Regions from separate parts of the Homo sapiens genome. Here all the other regions are linked to region 5. The links come from fine-mapping of genetic effects on gene expression. A gene starts in region 5. Each other region holds a variant in brackets. All regions are shown on one strand. Distances are between the middles of the regions.

Evidence for each region.
Region 1: its variant is fine-mapped to the expression of PCED1B in whole blood (TOPMed, PIP 0.99).
Region 2: its variant is fine-mapped to the expression of PCED1B in whole blood (TOPMed, PIP above 0.99).
Region 3: its variant is fine-mapped to the expression of PCED1B in whole blood (INTERVAL, PIP 0.95).
Region 4: its variant is fine-mapped to the expression of PCED1B in whole blood (INTERVAL, PIP 0.95).
Region 6: its variant is fine-mapped to the expression of PCED1B in esophagus mucosa (GTEx, PIP above 0.99).

The regions. Positions count from the first base shown.
Region 1 is chr12:47,213,536-47,217,625 of GRCh38, reverse strand. PCED1B (PC-esterase domain containing 1B) reads right to left here. Exons shown (of 4, transcript NM_138371.3): 3 at 937-1,404. PCED1B-AS1 (PCED1B antisense RNA 1) reads left to right here and starts at 1,183. Exons shown (of 3, transcript NR_026544.1): 1 at 1,183-1,242; 2 at 1,362-1,461. The variant A/G (reference allele first, on the strand shown) is at 2,351.
Region 2 is chr12:47,222,326-47,226,415 of GRCh38, reverse strand. All of the region lies in intron 3 of PCED1B (PC-esterase domain containing 1B), which reads right to left. Among named protein-coding and RNA genes, the nearest start is that of PCED1B-AS1, 7.9 kb to the right of the region's middle. RefSeq lists enhancers at 2,785-3,515, 3,516-4,090. The variant G/A (reference allele first, on the strand shown) is at 2,423.
Region 3 is chr12:47,339,386-47,343,475 of GRCh38, reverse strand. It overlaps the pseudogene PPIAP45. Among named protein-coding and RNA genes, the nearest start is that of LINC02416, 12 kb to the left of the region's middle. The variant C/T (reference allele first, on the strand shown) is at 1,956.
Region 4 is chr12:47,361,628-47,365,717 of GRCh38, reverse strand. All of the region lies in intron 1 of LINC02416 (long intergenic non-protein coding RNA 2416), which reads right to left. MIR4494 (microRNA 4494) reads left to right here and starts at 1,449; the gene lies at 1,449-1,532. RefSeq lists a silencer at 4,087-4,090. The variant G/A (reference allele first, on the strand shown) is at 1,584.
Region 5 is chr12:47,077,161-47,081,250 of GRCh38, reverse strand. It overlaps PCED1B (PC-esterase domain containing 1B), which reads right to left and starts at 1,630. Exons shown (of 4, transcript NM_138371.3): 1 at 1,526-1,630. It overlaps AMIGO2 (adhesion molecule with Ig like domain 2), which reads left to right and starts at 1,292. Exons shown (of 3, transcript NM_001370299.1): 1 at 1,292-1,789; 2 at 2,003-2,109; 3 at 2,186-4,090. The coding sequence starts at 2,249. The coding sequence ends at 3,817.
Region 6 is chr12:47,301,815-47,305,904 of GRCh38, reverse strand. No RefSeq gene overlaps it. Among named protein-coding and RNA genes, the nearest start is that of LINC02416, 50 kb to the left of the region's middle. The variant G/A (reference allele first, on the strand shown) is at 1,592.

The sequences.
Region 1 (4,090 bases), 140 kb before region 5:
CAGCCTGAGCAGCAGAGTGAGACTCCATCACAAAAAAACAAAAACAAAAACAACCTAAGAAATTATTTTCTTTCTTTCTTTCCTTTTCTTTTCTCTCTTTCTCTTTCTTCTTTCTTTCTTTCTTTCTTTCTTTCTTTCTTTCTTTCTTTCTTTCTCTTTCTTTCTTTTTCTTTCTTTCTTTCTTTCTTTTTTTTTCTTCTTTCTCTGTCTCTCTCTCTCTCTCTGTTTCTTTCTTGTCTCACTCTGTTGCCCAAGTTGGAATTCAGTGGCGAAATCATGGCTCACTGCAGCAACTCTGCAGGCTCAATCAATCCTCCCACTTCAGCCTCCCTAGTAGCTGGGACTACAGGCCTGTGCCACCATGCCTGGCTAATTTTTATAGTTTTTTTTAGAGACAGGGTTTCATCATGTTGTCCAGGCTGGTCTTGAACTTAGACTCAAATAATCCACCTGCCTCAGCCTTCCAAAGTGCTTGGATTACGGGTGTGGGCCACCGCACCTGGACTACATATTCTAATTTTCTCCATTTTATACTTTTAAAAATTAAGGCTAAAAGATTGAGTAATCTGCCCAAGGTCATCCATTTTATAAGAAGTAGTGCTGGAAGTAAAACCTGATGCCAAGCCTTTGTGGTCAACCACAACATACAAGATTGCAGACAACAGATGCCTCACGTCCCTTCTCCAGTTCACAACTAAATTGGCTGTTTTCTTTCACTGTCCATTTTAATAAATTTACAAGTTTATCAATCACTAATATTTTTGTTATTGCCAAGCACCAGTTGTCTCTTTAGTGTTACATGGGGTGGGCTGAAGGAGGCTAGGGTGCTGATTCCTGTCTACAGTAAGTGCCCAAAAAATGATGGTCTCAAGAAAGGCTGGTCAGAAATGCCAACTTAAAGTTTCAGATAAAATGGAAAAACTGAAAAGTACTTACTCATTAAAGTAACTGGTGATTTTTAAGCATCTCTCTCAGTTGATTCTAGATCTCGTCCCTAGATAGCTTTCTTCCTCTCCTGTAGATCATTGTGACCAGACGGGAGATCTCAGAGCTTGGGCTATAGGGGAAATAGGTTAGCCTCTGGGTGCTGCTGTGCTTGCAAGCCAGCGTCTGGGGAGAAGATGACATTTCCGGTGGCATCTGGGGCAAACGACACAAGTCAGCATTTAGTTTCTTGCTTTAGGAAGCGGAAGACTAATGACCGAAGCTTCAAGACTTTGACATGTGTGAAAACATGAAATGGTAAGTCAATACAAAGACAGCATCTTCCTGGAATTTGGTTTTGAGCTTGTTTTCATTTCACCTTTCTCAGTAATCTGGGTGTAGCTTATTTTGACTCTTCCTTTGATTAAACAATTCAGACCCTTGGCTCTTATTGTTCTTGCTGGTGTGGTATGTTCACGGCTGAAAAGATGGTCAGAAGGGGAAAGGAGGAAGTGAGAAGAAAGAAACAGGGAAATGGTAAGAAGAACTCTACTTTTCTAAATAATATTTAATAGTAGTAATCTTGTGTTTCTGTGCAAGGTGTTACAGTTTACAAACCGCTTTTATTTTTATTTATTTATTTTTTTTGAGACGGAGTTTTGGTCTTGTTGCCCAGGCTGGAGTGCAGTGGCATGGTCTCGGCTCATTGCAACCTCTGCCTCCCAGGTTCAAGCGATTCTCCTGCTTCAGGCTCCGAGTAGCTGTGACTACATGCACCCACCACCACACCCGGCTGATTTTGTATTTTTAGTAGAGATGGTGTTTCACCATGTTGGCCAGTCTGGTCTCGAACTCCTTACCTCAGGTGATCCACCCGCCTTGGCCTCCCAAAGTGCTGGGATTATAGGGGTGAGCCACCATGGCAGGCCACAAACCGCTTTTAAATCCTTTCACTTCATCTCTCCACTGACGTCTTGATGGAAAAATGGCTCAGTCCACACTACAGGAAACCACAGGCCTGAGCCCCAGCCTCAGCTAGATCCAGTATGTGGCAGAGCAAGATAAGAACTTTCTGCTTCCTCCCTTAGTGTTCCACTTGAAACCAGCAGGTAACTCAAGGGGACAGCGTGCTTAAAAGGGAGATGGTTCGTCTGGCGCTGTGGCTCATGCCTGTAATCCCAGCACTTTGGGAGGCCGAGGCGGGTGGATCACCTGAGGTCAGGAGTTCGAGACCAGCCTGGCCAACATGGTGCAACTCCGTCTCTACTGAAAATACAAAAATTAGCTGGGCGTGGTGGTGGGCCCCTGTAATCCCAGCTACTCGGGGGGCTGAGGCAGGAGAATCGCTTGAACCCAGGAGGCGGAGGTTGCAGTGAGCCAAAATCGTCCCATTGCACTCCAGTCAGGGTGACAAGAGCAAGACTCC[A/G]TCTTTAAAAAAAAAAAAAGGGTGGGGGAGATGGTCTTCTGATTGATTAGATAAGTGTAGGCATTTGTTTTCTTTTGTCTGGAATAATATGATTTCGGGGAGAGGAATATCACTTTCCCTACAAATACCAAGATGAAAAAGAAAAGGAAATAATGAATCAGAAAAAAAAGAGAGAGAGAAAATGCATGACTACAGAAGGTCCCAGTGCATGACTACAGAAGATCAGAATATACCACCCCCAGGTTCCCGTAATCCCAGGTCCTTGGGAGGCTGAGGCAGGAGAATCGCTTCAACCCAGGAGGCGTAGGTTGCAGCAAGCCGAGATTGCGCCACTGCACCTCAGCCTGGGCAACAGCGAGACTCCATCTCAAAAATAAAAAATATGCCACCCCAAAATATAGTTATTTGGCATATTTCGAGCTGATTATTCTGAGCAACTGCAGACACAAGAGTATCTCTGAAAAGCTGTCCTTTTGTAAAATAAATTTATATTTATAAAAGAAATCTACATTAGTCAAAGTATCTGTATCAGGAAGAGTCCTGCTCTCAGACAACTTTTATTACCTGGGGGATTCCAGTGTGTGTGCATATAATTAAAAATGTTTTTTCCTTTTCTTTTCTTTTTTTTTGAATTGAGATTTGGTCTCAATATGTTGCCCAGGCTGGTCTTGAACTCGTGGGCTCAAGTGATCCTCCCACCTCAGCTTCCCAAAGTGCTGGGATCACAGGCATGAGCCACCGAGCCTGGCCAAAAATGTTTTTTTCTCCTGTTAATCTGTTTTATGTCAATTTAATTTGTATCCCAGCCAAAGAACCTAGAAGTAGGGAGGAAGCCATTTTCCCTCCCTTACAGCACAAAATAACTAACCAACAAGAGTAAGAGGTTTCACAACAGTCCTGAATTACATGCTCTGAAGACTTAGCTTTTTTTAATAGTATGCTATTTATGTAAACTGGATTATAATGTGACATAATTGTCTTTCCTTGAAAAATATCATTTTACTTTACATCACTGTCTATTCAGTGTGTGGCTTAAAATTAATTCCATACCTTATGCATTGTTTTCATCCTCTATGGCCATCAATAAAGTTATCTTGCAGTTCCCCATGAGTTTTAGTACAGTCATTACCGGGAAATTTAATAGAATCAAGGCAGAACCCAACTGATAGCTTTAGTATTTTATAATCCAGAGTAGTCTATTACATAACTTTGAAAAATCTGCCATTATTTAGTTCTAGCAATTCTATAAATGAATTGCAAATCTTTCTAGTTCTGTAGATTTCAGCTAGTCTGTGCACTGTGAGAATAAAAGGACAATCTCTGTAATCATCCCAAGACCAGAGAACAGAAGAGCTGTAATAATGCAAATGATAATCACACTTATACTCTTTAAACTTAAAATAAAGTTGAGATCAACAGATTTTCAACTGATTTTCTTGCTTTCAAGAACTTATTATGCTCTATGTAGACAGCTACTATTGCTATTCTGGCCCTATCTCATGTTTCAAAGCTCAGTGAGCCATCTTTTATTTTTTACCCACCAAACTTGGCTTTTTCTTAAACAGTAATGACAACTTATGCACATATAATGTTTTACCCTGTGAATGTGCTTTCACACACAGATATCCTTTACTATTAGCAGCTCATTAGTAGTTATAGCCACAGAGAAATTTAAACTTTGCTTTATGCAAGCCATTACCATTTTATCCACATTTTCTATCTTAAGGAACGCAATTATTT
Region 2 (4,090 bases), 150 kb before region 5:
GGCGACAGAGCGAGACTCACTCCATCTCAAAAAGAGAGGCAATCTCTTCTCTCAAGAGGAGGGGTAAGAAAATGGGCACTTAAAGAGCTGGCTGCTAAAACGGATGTATGTAAATTAAGTACCTGAGACTGTTGGAAGAATCAAGCCAGAGGAGGGAGGTTTATGAACAATCATTGCAACCTGATTCCAACTTCGAATTAAAACAGAATTTTTTTAAAGTTTCATGGTAATTTTAAAAATCATAGTTATAAGTAGTTCCATGTTTTTTTCTGTTTTCAAAGTAAATTTTGGGCTTAGGCTAAAGCTGTCACAGATATATGTATTAATAATGTCTACTGCCACAATAAATTACTTTCCAGCATCTTGTTTATATTTCCCTGTTTGGGGATAATTAATTTTTTAATAGCTTCATAAGCTATGAATTACAACTCATTGACTATTGCTTTACAATGATCACAACCCAAACACATAACATTTATCTTTCATTAATGTTTTGTAATAATTATGTTGATTTTTCTTTTCTTTTTGATCTTTAGTTACAAGAAGAGGTACACTGAAATAAGCCAGTTGCTTTAGAGATACTGTAGAGAAGTTTTAAACCACAGAGATAGTCACTAAAAATTAGGATGTTTTGATTCATTGTGGGAAGTACTTGTAACTAATTTATAAGTTTCTTGCATATGACTATCTTAATACAATATTGTACTGGGAATATAAATGGTTCATTTCCTTATAACCGCATTTTGGGGGATCTAACCAATAGTTTGAACTTTCCAAGATTCTCTTAAATTTTAGTGGAATGGATGGTACAGATAAAGAATTATTTTTAATGAGCTCACCTGTATAATTTATCTATGTCAGCATTTGCTTAGTTTTCTAAGTGAATTTAAACTTGCCAAAAATTATATTACATGCCATATACAGTTTTGAAAGAAAAAAGAAAAGCAAACAATTCGAACTTTTCTTTGGGAAAACTTAGTGACTTGTGGACTGGGGATTCTCTAGAGACTCATATTTTGATTTGAGGCAAGTCAGTTAACATCCAGTGACCTATACAACACCAAAGTGGAAGAAGCAATGCAGGCCTATTTTTAAAAGTGGCTTTAGGATCAAATAAAAAAATACAGAAAAGTACTGAGAGATGCTATGCTGTGGTAAATAATGCAATAGAAAAATAATTGCCAGGCTGGGTGCAGTGGCTTAATTCTGTAATCCCAGCACTTTGGGAGGCCGAGACGGGTGGATCACTTGAGATCAGGAGTTCGAGACCAACGTGGCCAACATGGCAAAACCCCGTCTGTACCAAAAATACAAAAATCAGCTGGGCATGGTGGCACGTGCCTGTAATCCGAGCTACTTGGGAGGCTGAGGCAGGAGAATCATTTGAACCTGGGAGGTGGAGGTTGCAGTGAGCCAAGATTGTGTCACTGCACTCCAGCCTGGGCGACAGCGTGAGACTCTGTGTCAAAAAAAGAAAACGAAAAAGAAAAAGAATTGCCAAATAACCACTGGAAAGACTGTTAACTGATTCGAATCACCTACCTACATTGACCTCACTTCCTACGTAGGTCTCGGATCTGCAGTCCATTAATTAATTCAGTAAAAATTTAGAGAGCCCTGCGTCTATCTACGGCTATGACAGCTGTTACTGCACATTTGGCTCACATCCCTCAACAACAACCATGATTCCCCTGTGAATCCCCGCATCATGAAACCACGCCATATAGCCTGTATTTCTAAGTTGGTTATCCAGGTAGTCTTTAAACACATCTAAAATCATGCGAGATAAGCGAAAAACGGAAACTAGAATAAAGATCTTCAAACTGGGCTCCGTGTAATCACAGGTTTACTTTGTGGAGGAAGGAATCACTGTGGGTATATTCAGTTTGTATTTGTATCATCCCTACCAGGCCACAATCTGAAATTTGTAATTCTTTTTAAATAAACTATCAGCAGAAGAATCTCAAACACTTTGAGTCTGAAAATTACCAAGTTTAAAAATTCTTAAAGCAGTGTATTTTCCCATAATAATAGTCTAATATAAACAACGCCTATGAATTACAGAAAGAAATGCAGAGAGCATTTTTATGAATGAAGTGGTGGTTCTTAGTAACTGAAATGCAGGTAACTTCTGTAAAAACCAAAGATAAAACTATGGACCATTAATTCCAGTGACCTCACTTTTTTAAACTTTTGTTTTACAGCCTTTTGTAAATATTCCCTAAAATAAATAATCAAAGCATTTCATAAACACAAAAGTATGATTTCAATCATGTACAGTCTATAGTAAACCTCTACATGATGGTCTTGCATCATTATTCAAAGTATATTTGCTAACTTCCTACCTATTACCCCTTTAACACAAATGAAAGATACCAGAAGGTGGTGATCTGGCTTTCAACTCCAGACAAAGAAGCCAGAC[G/A]TGGACTCTGCCCCTGGACAGCTGCGTGCTCTTGGGCTGGCTGCCCACAGTTCTGAACCAGTTTCCTCTTCTGTAAAAAGGGAATAATATTACCTACCTCGTCAAATAATAGTGAAAATGAAAAGAGATCTCGTACATCAGGGGCCTAATAATACAAGGCCTGCCAGACAGTAGGCCCCTCTAATCCTTTGGCTCAGCAAGCCCTCCCACAATGATTCCAGAGAAAACACAGGCCTGCAGACAGAACCCTGTTTGGACTCCCTCCTCAAACCTTCAAATCCTCACCCCGCTTCCCACCCTCCTGCAAAGGCAGAGAGGTACCTCCTTAGGCGTAAAGCTTCCTCAGCAGCTCAGGGACTTCGCTCCCGGATATCCCCCAGTGAGGGGATAATTTGCATTCTGCATTTTCTTTACCCTCCTTGGCCTGGATCCTTCTTTTTAGCATTAAACACATTCTAGTTTCTTGCTTTGAAAAAGAAAGGAAACATCTTTGACTCCACCTCCAGGACAGTCCTATCTTTTGCCTCCACTCCAAGGCCACATTTAAAAAAAAAAACTTGCTTGCACTGACTGGGTCTGGGTCTGGGCCCCACCTCCCACTCACTCCTCCGTTTACTTTAATTTGGCTCTGACTGGATCAAAGCCAAGGAATGTTTGTTAGTAAATCACCGATGATTTCCCTGTTGCTCCTTTCAGTGGCCACTTTTTGGTTCTTACAGTATGAGGGGTAGGGGCACTACTGACTGCTCCCTCTGAGAAACCCAGCCCTCAAGTCCACGTATTTGTGACACCCTTGTATCCTGTCTTTCCCTAGTATCTTTTGAGGGTTTCTCTTTCTCTGGCAGTTCCCCAAATGTTGGTCTTTCTCTCTCTCTCTCTCTTTTTCTTATTTCTCCCTCCCTTCCAGGTCTTTCTCAAGGCCCACTGAAGGGCTCTTTTCTTCTCTTCTTCAACATTCTTATCCTCGTGTGTCCACCCATTTTCAGAGTGTCAGGAAATGAGGTAACCCTATGTCCCTATTTGCCCCAAACAGTTCTGGTTTCTGCCTGTTTCCCCAGAATGATTAGTAGCACCCCAAACCCTTAAGAGTCCTGGTTTGGATGGTTACAACGGACCATCCCCTTATCAATTCCCATTTGTATGCAGATGACTGAGAATTGGGGCAATAAAGCACACTGGCTGAGAGGGAGGGGCTCTGGGGTTGGCCCCCTGGGTTTGATCCTGCTCCACTGCTTACTAGCCCTTGAGTCCCTGGGCCTATTAAGCAACCCCTCTGCCCTGAAGAAACCTCATCAATAAAATGGGAACAATATTACTGCAGTTTTCCTAACAAGTGAGGGTTAAATGAACACATGTAAAGTTATTAGCATGACACCGCCACATTTCTAAGTGCTCAGTGAATGTAGCTATTATCTTTGTCTCTAGCCCAGACCTGTCTCCTGAGTTTCAGACATATTCAGGTAGAGAGAATAAAGTTATCTGGGGTTGGAGGGGTAGGAGGTAGGAAAAGCAGTCTATGCAGGCCCCTATCACTTCCCAATTCTCTCTCTTTTTTTTTTTTTTTTTTTTTTGAGATGGAGTTTTGCTCTTGTTGCCCAGGCTGGAGTGCAATGGCGTGATCTCAGCTCACCGCAACATCTGCCTCCCAGGTTCAAGCGATTCTCCTGC
Region 3 (4,090 bases), 260 kb before region 5:
GAGTTATTATTTTTCCCTTCTCTCAGCAGTTTAAACATGCCAATTTGTCTCCAGACTTGCATGGTTTCTGAAGCCTGCCATAATTCATTTTTTTCATTTTTTTATTATTATACTTTAAGTTCTAGGGTACACGTGCACAATATGCAGGTTTGTTACATATGTATACATCTGCCATGTTGGTGTGCTGCACCCATTAACTTGTCATTTACATTAGGTATATCTCCTAATGCTATCCCTCCCCCAACCCCCCACCCCATGGCAGGCACCGGTGTGTGATGTTCCCCATCCTGTGTCCAACTGTTCTCATTGTTCAATTCCCACCTATGAGTGAGAACATGTAGTGTTTGGTTTTCTGTCCTTGTGACAGTTTGCTCAGAATGATGGTTTCCAGCTTCATCCATGTCCCTATAAAGGACATGAACTCATCCTTTTTTATGGCTGCATAGTATTCCATGGTGTATATGTGCCACATTTTCTTAATCCAGTCTATCATTGATGGACATTTGGGTTGGTTCCAAGTCTTTGCTATTGTGAATAGTGCCACAATAAACATACGTGTGCATGTGTCTTTATAGCAGCATGATTTATAATCCTTTGGGTATATACCCAGTAATGAGATGGCTGGGTCAAATGGTATTTCTAGTTCTAGATCCTTGAGGAATCACCACACTGTCTTCCACAATGGTTGAACTAGTTTACAGTCCCACCAACAGTATAAAAGGGTTCCTATTTCTCCACATCCTCTCCAGCACCTGTTGTTTCCTGACCTTTTAATGATTGCCATTCTAACTGGTGTGAGATGGTATCTCATTGTGGTTTTGATTTGCATTTCTCTGATGGCCAGAGTGAACGGGCAACCTACAGAATGGGAGAAAGTTTTTGCAATCTACCCATCTGACAAAGTGCTAATATCCAGGATCTACAAAGAACTTAAACAAATTAACAAGAAAAAATCAAACAACCCCATCAAAAAGTGGGCGAAGGATATGAACAGACACTTCTCAAAAGAAAACATTTATGCAGCCAACAGACACATGAAAAAAGGTACCGCTATCTTTTTGTCATGGTGGGAAATGTGAAATTATCCAGGAATGGCATCTGTGACAATAAAGAAGATGAAAAGATGATTCCTAGACCAAAATAGGAAGAGATGATGTCTGGATATTTGCCCTGATTTGACAATAAATAAATATGTAAGCATCTCTTCTACTCCTTTCTACCCATTATTCTGAATTTTTATTGATAAATCACTATACTTTCCAGAGCCCACACAATTTGTAAAGCATTTTCAATAAAACTGTTTAGTTAGGCAAGGCTTCTTAAAATGTATACATATATTTTCCTTGCTTTGCAGATGGATGCCTCCCAGAGCCACCTGCACCCGTCATGGTCAATCCCACTGTGTTCTTTGATGCCATCATCAACTTGGGCTGTGTCTTCTTTGAGCTGTTTGCAGACAAAGTTCCACAGACAGCAGAAAATTTTGTACTTGAGAGCTGGCGAGAGAGGATTTTGTTATATGGGTTCTTACTTTTACAGAATTATTCCAGGCCTTACGTGCTAGGGTGGTGACTTCATGCCATTATGGCGTTGGTGACAAGCTTATCTACAGAGAGAAATTTGATGATGAGAATCTCATCCTGAAGCATACAGGTCCTGGCGTGATGTTCATGGTAAATGCAGGACTCAGCACAAACAATTCCCAGTTTTTCATCTGCACGGCCAAGACTGAGTGGTTACATAGCAAGCCTGTTGTCTTTGGGAAGATAAAAGAGGGCATGAATATTGTGGAAACCATGGAGCACTTTGGATCCAGGAATGGCAAGACCAGCAAGAATATCACCATTGCCAATTGTGGGAAATGCTAGTAAATTTGACTTGTTTTATCTTAACCACCAGACCATTTTTTCTGTAGCTCAGGAAAGCACCCTTCCACCCCATTTACTTGCAATATC[C/T]TATAATCTTTGTGCTCTCACTGCAGTTCTTTGGGTTCTATATTTTTCCTATCCCCTTCACATCTAGCTGGATTGCACAGTTAAGTTTATTAATTATGAAATAAAAATTAAATAACAATAAACAATTTTCCAGGGGCCCTATATATCCCACATAGTAGCAGCTCTGCTTGGCTGTGACCCTATGTTTGAGAGTTAACAAGTATTAATTGATGCACTACATACGGTAGTATCATGTTCTGTCAAATGCTGTTATTCCAGCCCCAAAAAACTGTATAAGGCAAACCTTGCCTTAAGAGCCATGGTCTTGCTGGTAATACAGAACTTACCCATATGAAACATATCAGGAGATACATAAAATTAGATATTATATGGTGCCTAATCAATTAGATGTAACTTTAAACATGGTAGACATGGTTAATGCTCAGGATTGAGGGAGGGTCAAGCTCAGTCTGGGCTGGTGTCTCAAGGAAAGCTTGGTGGCACTTGATGTAGCCCTGAGGCACATGCTGAACTTGGACAGGCTCAGAAGTGTGCAGAAAGCTGGCAGGGTGTAGGGGGCAACAGTAGGAATATCTTAGGGAGGAAGCCTCTCTATTGAGAGTCAGACTTGGGGGCATTCTGAACTAAAGAAGGTGCAGCCTCTGCTGTTTCTTGGAACTAGGCTCTTGAGCTATTAACAGCAGAAAAACCACCCTGCGGGGAGAAGTGGCAAGCTATCAGGACACCCTTCACTACCCTGTGAATAGGAGACACTGACGGAATGCATTTTGGGGCGGAAATCTCTCACTGGAAATAATCTTGGTGATTTCTTTAACGTCAGTATCTCGACTCAGACTTAGCCCAACAACTACATTCTTGCCACACTCTCTCCATCTTCTTCAGGTCGTCTTTCTGTCGTGCTGTCTTAGGAACAATTTCTGTTCTTGCCTGTTTGCCATCTAAGCCCTCACCTCATTCTCTAAGCATGAATACCAATTTTCACCTTGCACTTTTGCCAAACCTCAGCTCAGTGTTGACTTGAAGCCAGAAGAACTGTGACTGAGGCTGAATTTGCCACTTATTTTCTCTATAACCTTGGGCAGGGCACTGTGTGCCTCAGAACTTCTATTTCTCTGTTTGTAAATGAAGATAATGATGCCTTGCGACTTACTTCATGGGGGTATTTTGAGGAGAAAATAAACTACTTTAGTTTAAAATAATAATACCTAATAATAATGATAATAATAATAATATCTAATACTTAAATAGAACTTATTCTATGTCAGGCAATCTTCTAAGTGCTTTAGATATATTAATTATTTTAATTCTCACCATAACCCTGTGAAGAAGAAATTATTATCACCATTTACAATGAGAAAGTTTAGGCATAGAGAAATTAAGTAAAAATAACACAATTGTTAAGTGTAAGAGCTGAGATTTAAACCTTGGCAGTCCGGTTCCAGAATCTGTTCCCTCAACAACCACATTATATTGTTTATCTAATAATAAGAAGAACTAACACTTGTGTAAGGCTTACTACATGCCAGATACTATTCCAATGGTCCAATTAACTTACTTAACTGTCACAATAGTCCTTTGAGGTATCTGTGAGGAAGATGCTGTTATTACCTGTATTAAAATGCTCTGTGAAGACTTCCACATGTAGGAAGGCAGAATAGATGTACTTTCCTTATTCCTCCTACTAAGTACAAAAGAAAACCCTGTCCAGCATACATAAATCAAACACAGGGAAACTCTAAAAGGTGAGATAAGAAGGTAGACTGACTAGGGACCTCAGAATCGAAGAAACAATATGTTGGTAAGCTCCCTGGTTTTTTGTTTTCCCCTCATACAACTCAGACTTGGAGTTGAAGAAGGTAGCAACCTGAAAATGCCAATGGGTGTAAACAAACAAAGAAACAAACAAAAAAGCCCCAACAAAAACTTGCTCTCTCTAGCCAAAAGAAAGGACCAGGCTGGGCCGGACAGCTCAACACCTATAATCCCAGCACTTTGGAGGGCCATGGCAGGAGGATTGCTTGAGGCCAGGGATTCAAGACTAGCCTGGACAACACAGCAAGACCCTGTCTAGAGAGAGAGAGAGAGAGAGAGAGAGAGAGAGAGAGAAAGGACCAGGAAAGGAACACCCTAGCAAG
Region 4 (4,090 bases), 280 kb before region 5:
TTCCTCGTTGGTAGAATGGGACTGGCCCTGGTGCCCCTGCTACATGGAGTCTGTGGGATTCAATGAGAAGATTCCTGGCCTGGCGTGGCTCATGCCTATAATCCCAGCACTTTGGGAGGCCAAGGTGGGTGGATCACTTGAGGTCAGGAGTTTGAGAGCAGCCTGGCCAACATGGTGAAATGCTGTCTCTACTAAAATACAAAAATTAGCTGGGCGTGGTGGTGCACACCTGTAATCCCAACTACTCGGGAGGCTGAGGTAATAGAATCACTTGAACCCAGGAGGCTGAGGTTGCAGTGAGCCGAGATTATGCCACCGTGCTCCAGCCTGGGCAACAAAGCAAGACTCTGCCAGAAAAAAAAAAGAGAAAAGATGCGTGTAAAAGGGCTGACTGCTGAATCCAACTTAGTCACTACTCAGTAAATGTCAGCTACTACTACTATTATTACTGAATTTCTTTTTGGAATGTTGATAGAGAACCATTACCACTTAAACCTGGGGAATTTTTCCTTGCTGTGGAAACAGGGCTTGACTTTCTAAAGATTGTGCTCCCCTCTCATGATGATTGGTGACTTCGTTTACTCATTTATAACATGTTCTGAACATCCACAACTTTGGTCCGTTTTTTTTGTATATGCAAATTTTTTGAGATATAGATTGAATGGTAGAAATGGAGAATTAATATTTGCATGAAAGGATTAATAGTTTAAAATCTTGTTTTTAACCATAAAGCAACACATTCATAAGCTGTAAAACTTACAAATGGGTATGAAATGTAAACGCCTACCTCCTTACTTACAAATCCATATTTAATGTAATTATAGCTGAAGATAATCATAGCTATTATTTCTTTTTTCTCAGATATTTGTATGTATATACATACATGTATATAAATATATGTATAAACGTGATTCTAGGAATTTTCACTTATAATGATATTGTATTCTACCTTTTTTTCCTACTTAAAACAGTTTAGTTTGGATACTTTTCATATCAAGACATAGAAATGCATTGGTTCTTTGGAACAGCTATGTAATATCCCATTTTACAGAGCCACTATAGTTTATTTAATCCTCTCTTGATGGGCATTTAAATTTTTTTTTTTTTTTTTACTATTACAAATAATAGTATCATGCTACTCCTATACAGTATATATTTGCCGCCTGGTGAAAGCGTTTCCTTGGGAAAAATTCCTGAAAGGAGAATTGCTGAGTTTAAGAGAATGTGCTTGTTAAATTTTAATAGTTATTGCCAAATTGCTTTCCAAAAAGTTGTAGCAATTTACATTTCATTAATAATACATGAGTGGTCCTGTTTCCCACACTCTTGAGTAAGATCAACATTTTACAGTAGTTCTCCTTTATCCATGGGATTATACCATGCTGCACAATTTAAAATGTATAAGTTGTTTGTTTCTGGAATTTTCCATTTAATACTTTGTTTTCTGAAGTTTTAGTTACCCTGGTCATCTGCAGTCTGAAAATACAAAATGGAAAATTCCAGACTGTGGCTGACCAGAGGTAACTGAAACCTCAGAAAGTAAAACCATAGAATGGGGTTGGGTGGGGTGGGTGCAAGCTCCA[G/A]TATTTTTGCAAAATATACAAAGTGAAAAACAGTATCTTGTTTTAACTTACATTCCTTGATTTTTTTAGATAGCTAAAAATGTTATGTGTTTATTGGCTGTTTGCTTTGTTTTTGTTGCAAACTTATTTTTCTATTGAATTGTTCAGTTTTCTGTTGCTGATTTTTTAATTGCTTTGTATATAAAAGAAATTAACCCTCTTCCTGTTATATAAATTGCAGACTTTTTTTTTCTATCCTGTGGTTTATCTCTTGACTTTACGGTATTCTAGTCTTGAAAAAGTTTTAACTTTTATATAAGTAAATTTATCAATCTTATCTTTTATGTCTGTCACTTTTCCCCAGTTAAAAATTATGAGAAAAAGATCAATGATTTTTCCAGTATTGTTATGGTTTCATATTTTACATTCAAGTTATTGATCCACATAGAATTTGTTTGGGCATAAGATACTTCTGCACTTTTTCCCCCAATGGCATGTTCATCACAACATTTCTGAATTATTCATATTCTCCCATTAACTTTAAAATACCACCTTATTTATATTTTATTTTATTTTATTTTTTTGAGACAAAGTCTTACTCTGTCACCCAGGCTGGAGTGCAGTGGCACAATCATGGCTTACTGCAGACTTGACCTCCAGGGCTCAAGTAATCCTCCCACCTCAGCCTCCCAAGCAGCTGTGACTACGGGCATGCACCAGCACACCCAGGTAATTTTTATATTTTTTGTAGAGACAGGGTTTTGCAATGTTGCTCAGGCTGGTCTCGAACTCCTGAGCTTAAGTGATACACCCACCTCAGCCTCCCAAAGTGCTGGGATTACAGGCCTGAGCCACTGCACATGGCCTTATATTAATATTAATACTTTAAGTTCTTAAAGGTATTTGGGTCTGTTTCTGGGGTCTTTATTCTCCATTAACAGCTTTCTTATTTCTTATAATTTCTCTACCTATAAAATATCTTAATATTGGATAAAACTATTTCTTCATTATTTCATTTACAGTTGTATTGGCTATTCTCACTCCTCTATTATTCTACAAGACCTTTACAACATTTTGTCAGTCTCCAAAAAAATCCTATTGATATTTTGATTGGAATTACAATTGCTTCAGGGAAAAGAAACTATATTGTTTCATTCACTCCTATCTTTCGGGTTCCCATATTAATCAGGATAGGATGGACTGTTGCAAGAATAATTAAATTTTCAAATCCCAGGGTATTATTTCAACAAAATTTTGTTTCTCACTCATGTAAATTCCTGTGCAATTGGGCCACTCTCCAGGACAGGGGTCCTCACTTTAGGGGCCCCACTGTCCAGGCTGTTTTGATCTTACAGCTCTGCTCTCTCAACATGCTGAGGACGATGGAAGAGATAACTTCCGGTCCTGTCTAGTTAGGTGGAGTGGTAAAACCAATCCTGGTCAATGGACTTTGAGTAGCAGTGATATGTCTCACTTCAGGATCAAAGCTTAGAAAAGCAGGTGTGAATTTTCCCTGTGATCTTTTCCTTTGTTGGTCAATTTCGGAGCCCATGACTTGAGATGACAGAACCAGCGACAGAAATCTTTTCAATAACTGAGCCACTTCATCACACAGGGCAGTTGCCCAGGGAACTCACCTGACTCACATCAGACCCACAGCTTTATTGTATTAAGGCCACTGAGATTCCAGGCGAAAGTTGCTACTGCAATGTGAAAAAACTTATCCTGACTGGAAAAAAAAAAAATGCTGAGGCCAGTAGTGGTAAGCTGTTGAAAAAAAATTAAAATACTGGCTTAGCAGTCAGCTGATGACAGAGAGGAAACTGATATCAGATGCTGGGAAGAAGGCAACACATTTGGTAAAGGTTTTGCTTGTGATTACCTTGCAAGACCATTCACCTATTGTACTGCTGCTATTATATATGTGGTTGCTTCTGGTTGTGTTTGGCAAAGTACTGGGAGGGAAGAGAGAGAGAGAGAGAAGCAACTCCAGAAAGAAATGACCAGTTTATAATGAATAATAAAAGGGAATAAAGATAATCCAAAAATTTGGAGTCTTATAAATTTGAAAAAACCAACTGCTTTTAGATTCAGAATCTGAAGAGTTTAAAGGCTTTGAGTAAAAAGTGCTAGGAAAAAAGAAAAAAAATATATATATATGTATATGTATACACACACACACACATAGATACATACATACATACTTGTGTGTGTATCAGTTGATTAAATGCCTCAGGGCAAAGGTTAGATCAACTTTTACAACTTGTTAAAACTTTAGAGGATTAAAATTACTTAAATCGAGGTCCTGGCCACGAAGGTGCGGGGGAGAGGCAGAGGGAGGATGTTTTGAGGACAAGAAAGCACAAGAATGAAGCAGAAATAAAAGAAGTCCCTCAAACACAATTCTAAATATGGTTATTTGCTCATGGAAATGTCTGGAAGCAGATAGATGGGGCCTCCTGGTTTTTGAGGTAGTCGTTCAGTAGTACAAAGAAACTGTAAGCCTGGTCTAAAAAGCCTGAGGCACC
Region 5 (4,090 bases):
TATCTATCCTGCCCCAACTGTTTCCTCAATTTGGTTGCTTTTCATTCCACTGTGGTTGGCATCTTTTGTCAAGGCAGTAATTTATTTCTTTTAATCCGGATATAATGGCCAAATGGGCGATCTGACTCACTCAAATCCCATCGTTAAAACTTATCTTGGAATTAAACAAAAATGGATTTTTAATCGTAGAGCTCATCAGCCTCATAGTCTCCACCTCATTTCTGAATGGCCTTGTTCGGCTTGCACCTTCTGTGCTTGCTGAACCAAAGCGCGCTGGTCGGCCGCGGCATCTCCGGAAGGGATGAAGAGCCTCCGCGCACACGCCCCTTACTTCCCTGTCCCGCACGCGCCACGAGCACGCTTGCAAAAGACGGGGAGGTGGCGGGGACAGAGACAGAGGAAATGAGAGAGAGAGAACGAAAGAGAAAGGAGAGAGAGGGAGAGAGAGAGGGAGAGAGAAGAGGGGAAGGAGAAGAGAGAAAAAAGAAAAAAAGGTCTGCTCTGGGATTATTATTATTATTTGGGTTAATACTCTTATCTTTGCATTCCAGCCGGAAGGTCGGCTCCAAGCCTTCTTTCCTGCCCTCCTCCTTCTTGAATTGGACACCATCCCTGTTGCCGCCTCCTGAGTCAGGAAAGGGATAGAACTTTCCCAGGGAGGTGAGGGGTGTCCCCGTGGCGATTTCCCGGTTACTTCCTCCCAGCAGATATCCCTGTGGAGAGGAAACGTTCCCGACTTCCCTCCCCGCGACCTCCTCCCTAGAAACGAGCGGAGACGTCAGGCTGCTTCTGGGTTTATTTTGTAAACCCAGACAGTCAACTGCACTTGGCGCAGGCAAAGCCTCCTTGGCCCTTGCCCCAAAGCAAAGCTCTAAGAGGTCCGGGGATTCCTTGGCCTGGGTGGGGAGAGAGACGTGACCTGTGCGGCCGCCGCGAAGTGGGTCTCCAAGGGTGAGACCCCTCCCTCGGTGGCTGGGCGTGTCCCCTTTAGCCTTCCTGGACCCCATTACCGCCCGGCTTGGAGCTGGACGAAGGGACGTAATTGGTAGGCGAGTGGGTTGGGCATCTTGACTCAAGGACCAGAGTCTGGGCCTCTGGTGTGGACCCCTGCCCCCTCCCCGCTCTGCGCGGCCGTTCTAGAGGTCCGGGTGGGAGCTGGAGGAGGAAAGCGGGAGGAGGCGGCGAGGCCGCGGGGCGGTATGAGGGGGCGCCGGCCGCCTCTCGGATTGGCTGCGCCGCCGCCCCCTCCGCATCGCGCGCCCCCCACCACGCGCCCAGCCTGCTCCCTCCCGCAGGCTCCGAGCTGCTGCCCGCAGGAGGCAGGACGCGCAGGGGTGGGACCGGCGCCCCAGCCCGTCTCCCGGCCCCGGGCGCGCGGGAACCCCGGGTCCTGCAGCCTCCCGAGTGCGGAGAGGCGGGGCCGCCCGCTGCCGCCCGGCTGCCTGCGCCCCCTCCCGCGGCCCCGGCTCTGGGAGCGGGGCGCCCCGCGCGCGGGCACACGGCGGCCAGAGCGCCGAGGCGGTACCTTCAGCCTGCAATGAGAGGAACCCGGGAGAGCCCCCGGGAGCCAGCGAAGAGCTTGGCTGCTGCGTCCAGGGCTGCTGCTGCCGCCGCGGCTGCTTGAAACTCCTCAAAGTTGAGAGCCGGCTAGAGGGTGCCGCCCGCCGGGAGCCGGAGGGAAAGGAAGTCGGAAGGTGCAAGAGTGACAGACACGGACAGACGGACGCGCAGACCTTCGGAAGGCACTGCGTAGGCAGCCTCCCCGGAGCCCACGAGGCTCCCCAGCACCGTGAGTTTTTTCCTGGATGGGTGGTTGCTAAGTATTTCCGTTTAATTGTTTGTAGCGTACGTTTGCGTATAGTTGTGTCTGTTGGAGGGAGTTTAAAACAACAACAACAACAACAACAACGCAGGATGCACCTTAGGAAAAAATTGAGTTTCTGATGGTGGGTGAGACGGTGGGTTGTATGGAGAGAATGTGACTGTACATTTTTATAAGCAGGACTAACCCAGGAAAGAGGAAAAAATACATTTAACAGTGAAGAGGCAACACAGAGCTCCCTATTGTGAAATAAAACCCATTTCAAAAGTTATTGGAAAGAAAGTAAGGTATGGCTCTTATGGGTTAACTAGTGGTAGTCAGTTTCTGCTTTTTACTCCCTCTGAATTATTAATTGTTTGCCAGGTTCACTGGTGGGAGGCTGAGCCGGTGGAAAAGACACCGGGAAGAGACTCAGAGGCGACCATAATGTCGTTACGTGTACACACTCTGCCCACCCTGCTTGGAGCCGTCGTCAGACCGGGCTGCAGGGAGCTGCTGTGTTTGCTGATGATCACAGTGACTGTGGGCCCTGGTGCCTCTGGGGTGTGCCCCACCGCTTGCATCTGTGCCACTGACATCGTCAGCTGCACCAACAAAAACCTGTCCAAGGTGCCTGGGAACCTTTTCAGACTGATTAAGAGACTGGACCTGAGTTATAACAGAATTGGGCTTCTGGATTCTGAGTGGATTCCAGTATCGTTTGCAAAGCTGAACACCCTAATTCTTCGTCATAACAACATCACCAGCATTTCCACGGGCAGTTTTTCCACAACTCCAAATTTGAAGTGTCTTGACTTATCGTCCAATAAGCTGAAGACGGTGAAAAATGCTGTATTCCAAGAGTTGAAGGTTCTGGAAGTGCTTCTGCTTTACAACAATCACATATCCTATCTCGATCCTTCAGCGTTTGGAGGGCTCTCCCAGTTGCAGAAACTCTACTTAAGTGGAAATTTTCTCACACAGTTTCCGATGGATTTGTATGTTGGAAGGTTCAAGCTGGCAGAACTGATGTTTTTAGATGTTTCTTATAACCGAATTCCTTCCATGCCAATGCACCACATAAATTTAGTGCCAGGAAAACAGCTGAGAGGCATCTACCTTCATGGAAACCCATTTGTCTGTGACTGTTCCCTGTACTCCTTGCTGGTCTTTTGGTATCGTAGGCACTTTAGCTCAGTGATGGATTTTAAGAACGATTACACCTGTCGCCTGTGGTCTGACTCCAGGCACTCGCGTCAGGTACTTCTGCTCCAGGATAGCTTTATGAATTGCTCTGACAGCATCATCAATGGTTCCTTTCGTGCGCTTGGCTTTATTCATGAGGCTCAGGTCGGGGAAAGACTGATGGTCCACTGTGACAGCAAGACAGGTAATGCAAATACGGATTTCATCTGGGTGGGTCCAGATAACAGACTGCTAGAGCCGGATAAAGAGATGGAAAACTTTTACGTGTTTCACAATGGAAGTCTGGTTATAGAAAGCCCTCGTTTTGAGGATGCTGGAGTGTATTCTTGTATCGCAATGAATAAGCAACGCCTGTTAAATGAAACTGTGGACGTCACAATAAATGTGAGCAATTTCACTGTAAGCAGATCCCATGCTCATGAGGCATTTAACACAGCTTTTACCACTCTTGCTGCTTGCGTGGCCAGTATCGTTTTGGTACTTTTGTACCTCTATCTGACTCCATGCCCCTGCAAGTGTAAAACCAAGAGACAGAAAAATATGCTACACCAAAGCAATGCCCATTCATCGATTCTCAGTCCTGGCCCCGCTAGTGATGCCTCCGCTGATGAACGGAAGGCAGGTGCAGGTAAAAGAGTGGTGTTTTTGGAACCCCTGAAGGATACTGCAGCAGGGCAGAACGGGAAAGTCAGGCTCTTTCCCAGCGAGGCAGTGATAGCTGAGGGCATCCTAAAGTCCACGAGGGGGAAATCTGACTCAGATTCAGTCAATTCAGTGTTTTCTGACACACCTTTTGTGGCGTCCACTTAATTTGTGCCTATATTTGTATGATGTCATAATTTAATCTGTTCATATTTAACTTTGTGTGTGGTCTGCAAAATAAACAGCAGGACAGAAATTGTGTTGTTTTGTTCTTTGAAATACAACCAAATTCTCTTAAAATGATTGGTAGGAAATGAGGTAAAGTACTTCAGTTCCTCAATGTGCCATAGAAAGATGGGGTTGTTTTCCAAAGTTTAAGTTCTAGATCACAATATCTTAGCTTTTAGCACTATTGGTAATTTCAGAGTAGGCCCAAAGGTG
Region 6 (4,090 bases), 220 kb before region 5:
CACTATTATTACACAGATAAGTAATGATACCGGAGTGCTGGGAAGGGAAGAGGGTGGTCCCTGGCTGGGCCTCTACCCCCAAGGACCTAGGTGAGGACGGTACTCCTGTCTTGGTGCTCAAATGTTGCATTTCCCAAAACTACCCTGGCCTGCCATGCCCCCATCCTGTGCCTATAGAAACCTCCCAGACCTAGCAGGCAGACACAGAAGTGGCTAGACGTCCACAGGAGCACATGGGCGGAGGCACACACAGGCGGCTGGGTGTCAAGTGGAATGCACTGGCACAGGCAATCCAGCAGGCACCCCGATCCGCAGAACAATACGGAGTTTGGCTGGGGCAGTTGGAGGAGAGCCTCGTTGATGAGCGGCCCAACTCCGGGGGAGAACCGTCTCCCTTCTGGATCCCCCATTTGCTGAGAGCCACTTCCACTCAATAAAACCTTGCTCTCATTCTCCAAGTCCACGTGTGATCCAATTCTTCTGGTGCACCAAGGCAAGAAACCCCGGGATACAGAAACCCCGGGATACAGAAATCCCTCTGTCCTTGTGATAACGAAGGGGGTCGAATTGAGCTGATGAACACAAGTCACCTATAGACGGGAAACTAAAAGAGCACCCTATAACACATGCCCGCTGGGGCTTCAGAAGCTGTAAACAATCACTCCTAGACACTGCCCTGGGGTCGGAGCTCTATATAGCCTTCCCATCTCCATTCTCCCTTAGAGGTTTGAGCAGCGGGGCATTGAAGAAGCGAGGCACTCCCCCGTCACACACCCTGTGAGGGGGACGAGGGAACCTTTCCCGTTTCGGTAATACAGAGCACATATTAATAATGGCCAGAAAAGAAAAGCAGACAGTGAAAATTTTGTTTTGTTGGACTTCATATTTATTATCATGCCAGTAAAAAAATTAATAATAAAAAAAGAATAAATAAATAAAGGCCAGGTGCGGTTCCTCATGCCTGTAATCCCAGCACTTTGGGAGGCTGAGATGGGTGGATCACCTGAGGTCAGGAGTTTGAGACCAGCCTGGCCAGCATAGTGAAATCCTGTCTCTACTAAAAATACAAAAAAAAATTAGCTGGGCCTGGTGGCAGGCACCTGTAATCTCAGCTACTTGGGAGGCTGAAGCAGGAGAATGGCTTGAACCCAGGAGACAGAGGTTGCAGTGAGCCGAGATTGTGCCATTGCACTCCAGCCTGGGCAACAAGAGCAAAACTCCGTGTCAAAAAATAATAATAATAATTAATAAATAAATAAGAGATCAAAAAGGAAAAAATTGATTAAATTTTTAAAGCATTAATTTTTTTAAAAAAGAAAAACATATCTATATATTGCTCTGTCACAGGCATGAATAATACTGTAGTTTCTGTTTTTAAGCCTTCTTCAAATTTGTCATTGGCTCTATCAATGGCTTGTTCCTTCTTGCGTGTTCATGTTAAATTCAGAGCATAGCAAGATTTGTCAATTTATATTTGCCTACAGTTGATCCTTACATAGGGATATGTCATACCATGGGGCTTGAGCCTGCCAACTGTACCCAAAACTTGAATGACTCTCAACTATAACAAATTTACTTTTGAAACAAACAT[G/A]TATAGTCATGTCCACTTGTGTCAGGGCCAGCTGTATAGCTAAAGTTCCCTGAATTAACTTCCAAGTAGAATGCCATCATTTTTCTTAAGGGTTAAGCAATAAAATGTGCTAATTTAAAATGTGCATATTCATGTTTAAAGCTCAAAAGTGACTGTGGCAACTGTTTAGAACTTAGACCAATAGAAAATTTGTTTTTGTTTTTTTCCTTGGGGAAGAGTATTCCATCACTGATGTTGTTTAGAATTCCTGCTGCATAGTGATAATAAAAAGTAGCCTGAATATTAGTCTGAATGTTTTATTATTGTTGGTCTGTACCTGGGGCACACTCCATGAATCCTTGGTGCACTGTGGTGAAAGAGACAGAATAATGAGGGGTGCTGAATGTGCAGGGTGCCCAGACACGGTGTCTCTGATGAGGTCATGTTTGAACAGAGACCTAAAGGGACACAAGGAAGGAACCGTGAATCTACCTGGAGAGAATGATTCCAGCAAGCACAAAGGTTCTGCCTCCAGAATGTGGGTGGTGTGTTTGAGAAACAGCAAGCATCCCTGTGACTGGAGTAGAAGGACTGAGAAGGATATAGGAGGAGGTTAGAGAAGTAACAAGTTAAGTCAGGCATGGTGGCTTATGCCTGTAATTCCAGCACGTTAGGAGGCCATGGCATGAGAATCACTTGAGGCCAGGAGTTTGACACCAGCTTGGGCAACGAAGCAAGACCTTGTCTTTACAAAAAGAGAAAAAGATAATGTTAGCCGGGTATAGTGGCATGTGCCTGTAGATGGAGTGGGAAGACATGAATGTCTGAGCCATGTGGCTCCTGTTCCCATCACATTCCTTTACGCTGGGTGATGCAGGCTCTGGCCTGGTGAAATTACGTTGGATGTCTAGTTGGAAAACCTTGTTTAAGCCAAGTATTTCCTACTTAATAGACTTCATTCCCCAACGTGGAAAATAAGGATAATATAACCTATCTCACGGGGCTATCATGCTTATTAAATGAGATAATGTTTATGGGAGTGCTTTGTAATCTGTGAAGCATCCTGTCAAGGCGTACTCTTATTATTGTTGCTATTGTAGGTTAGGAAAAACATTCTTCTACCCTCTTAGATCTGTAGCTGGCCTAAGAATGAAACGGACATAAGACAGATTAACAGGAGAAAAGCATACAGACTTCATATTTTCGCATTTACACAGGAGTCTTTAAAAAGAAAACAACAGCCCAAAGAAGCTGTTAGGCCCAAAAGCTTCTATACCTTTTTACAAAAAGAATGACAAATTGTGGGGATATGACGAGGCAAGGAGCTTGAATAAGGGGCAATAAATTGTGGGACAGTGACTAGGAAATATATGGGGGAAACTAATGCAAGATATGGATTATTTTAGTAAGTTTGTTTGTGCATGTCCATTTCTGTGTTGATTCCAAGTCTCTGAAAATAAGAACGTTCTTTTCTCTTGATACAGGGAAGGCATCCTTTCCATGATAAATTTGATCACCTGCTTTTAGGTGGAAAGGAGGGCAGAGATCCCTTTCTGCATCTGCTGTTTCTCAATTTCCTTCAGCTCAAAATAATCAATATGCCAAAGCAGCATATTTTGGGGTGGCATATTCTGAATTCCTTCACTATTATGAGAGGCTGATGTTTAAGTGCTCAAGAATCAGGAAAAACTGAGACATTCAAGAGAAGTGCCCTGGATCCTGCAGCCCTCTTCCCATTGATTTCCAGTTCCTTTCCCACACAACCTCTCCTTCAGCAGGAGGCCTTGGTGAAGGTTGGCAGGCAGGGGCTGCTTCTCATCAGCGTGACAGGAGGTGCATCACCACCCACGGTTAACGGTTAACCAAGCTAAACAGTATAAGATAACCTTCATTTGCAAATCTAATGAGCAAAATTACAGGATTCAACTCTAATAGAGGGGGGAAATGAAGCTGAAGATCATTATTTCCACATCTAAGATTAGCAGCTGGAAAATACAGTACATCTGTAAAATGACGGTGTCAGATACCACAGCTTTGCATGACACCAGCACACACACAAAAGAAGAATCACTTCAGAGAGTAGAAGTAGAGGCGGAGTACTCTAGAGGTCACGACAGATGGACACATCTGAGCATCTGCCACATACCAAACCAGGTTACCATGACATTATGTGTTGAAACTACTGATAAAGGTCTTTGGAAAAAAGTCTACTAATACCCCAAAAAACATGAGCTGTCTTTCCATTCTTTTTCTCTTTCATAGGTCAGGAGGATGTGTTCTGTGCCTGAAGAAATACTCCCTTATATAAATCAAGTTGGAAGGATGGAGATGGAAGGAACAAATGTGGGAATAAAAAATTGGGAAGGAATTCACCTCATGGTTTGACTCTGAAACAAAATTGATAAGAGCCTTTCCCCAAAAGACCCCCTTCTTGCCTGGGAACCAGTCTGCCTTTGCAGGACTAACAAATTAGCTACAAAATTAGAAATTATGGTTTAGGGTTCATGAAGCCTCTGACTC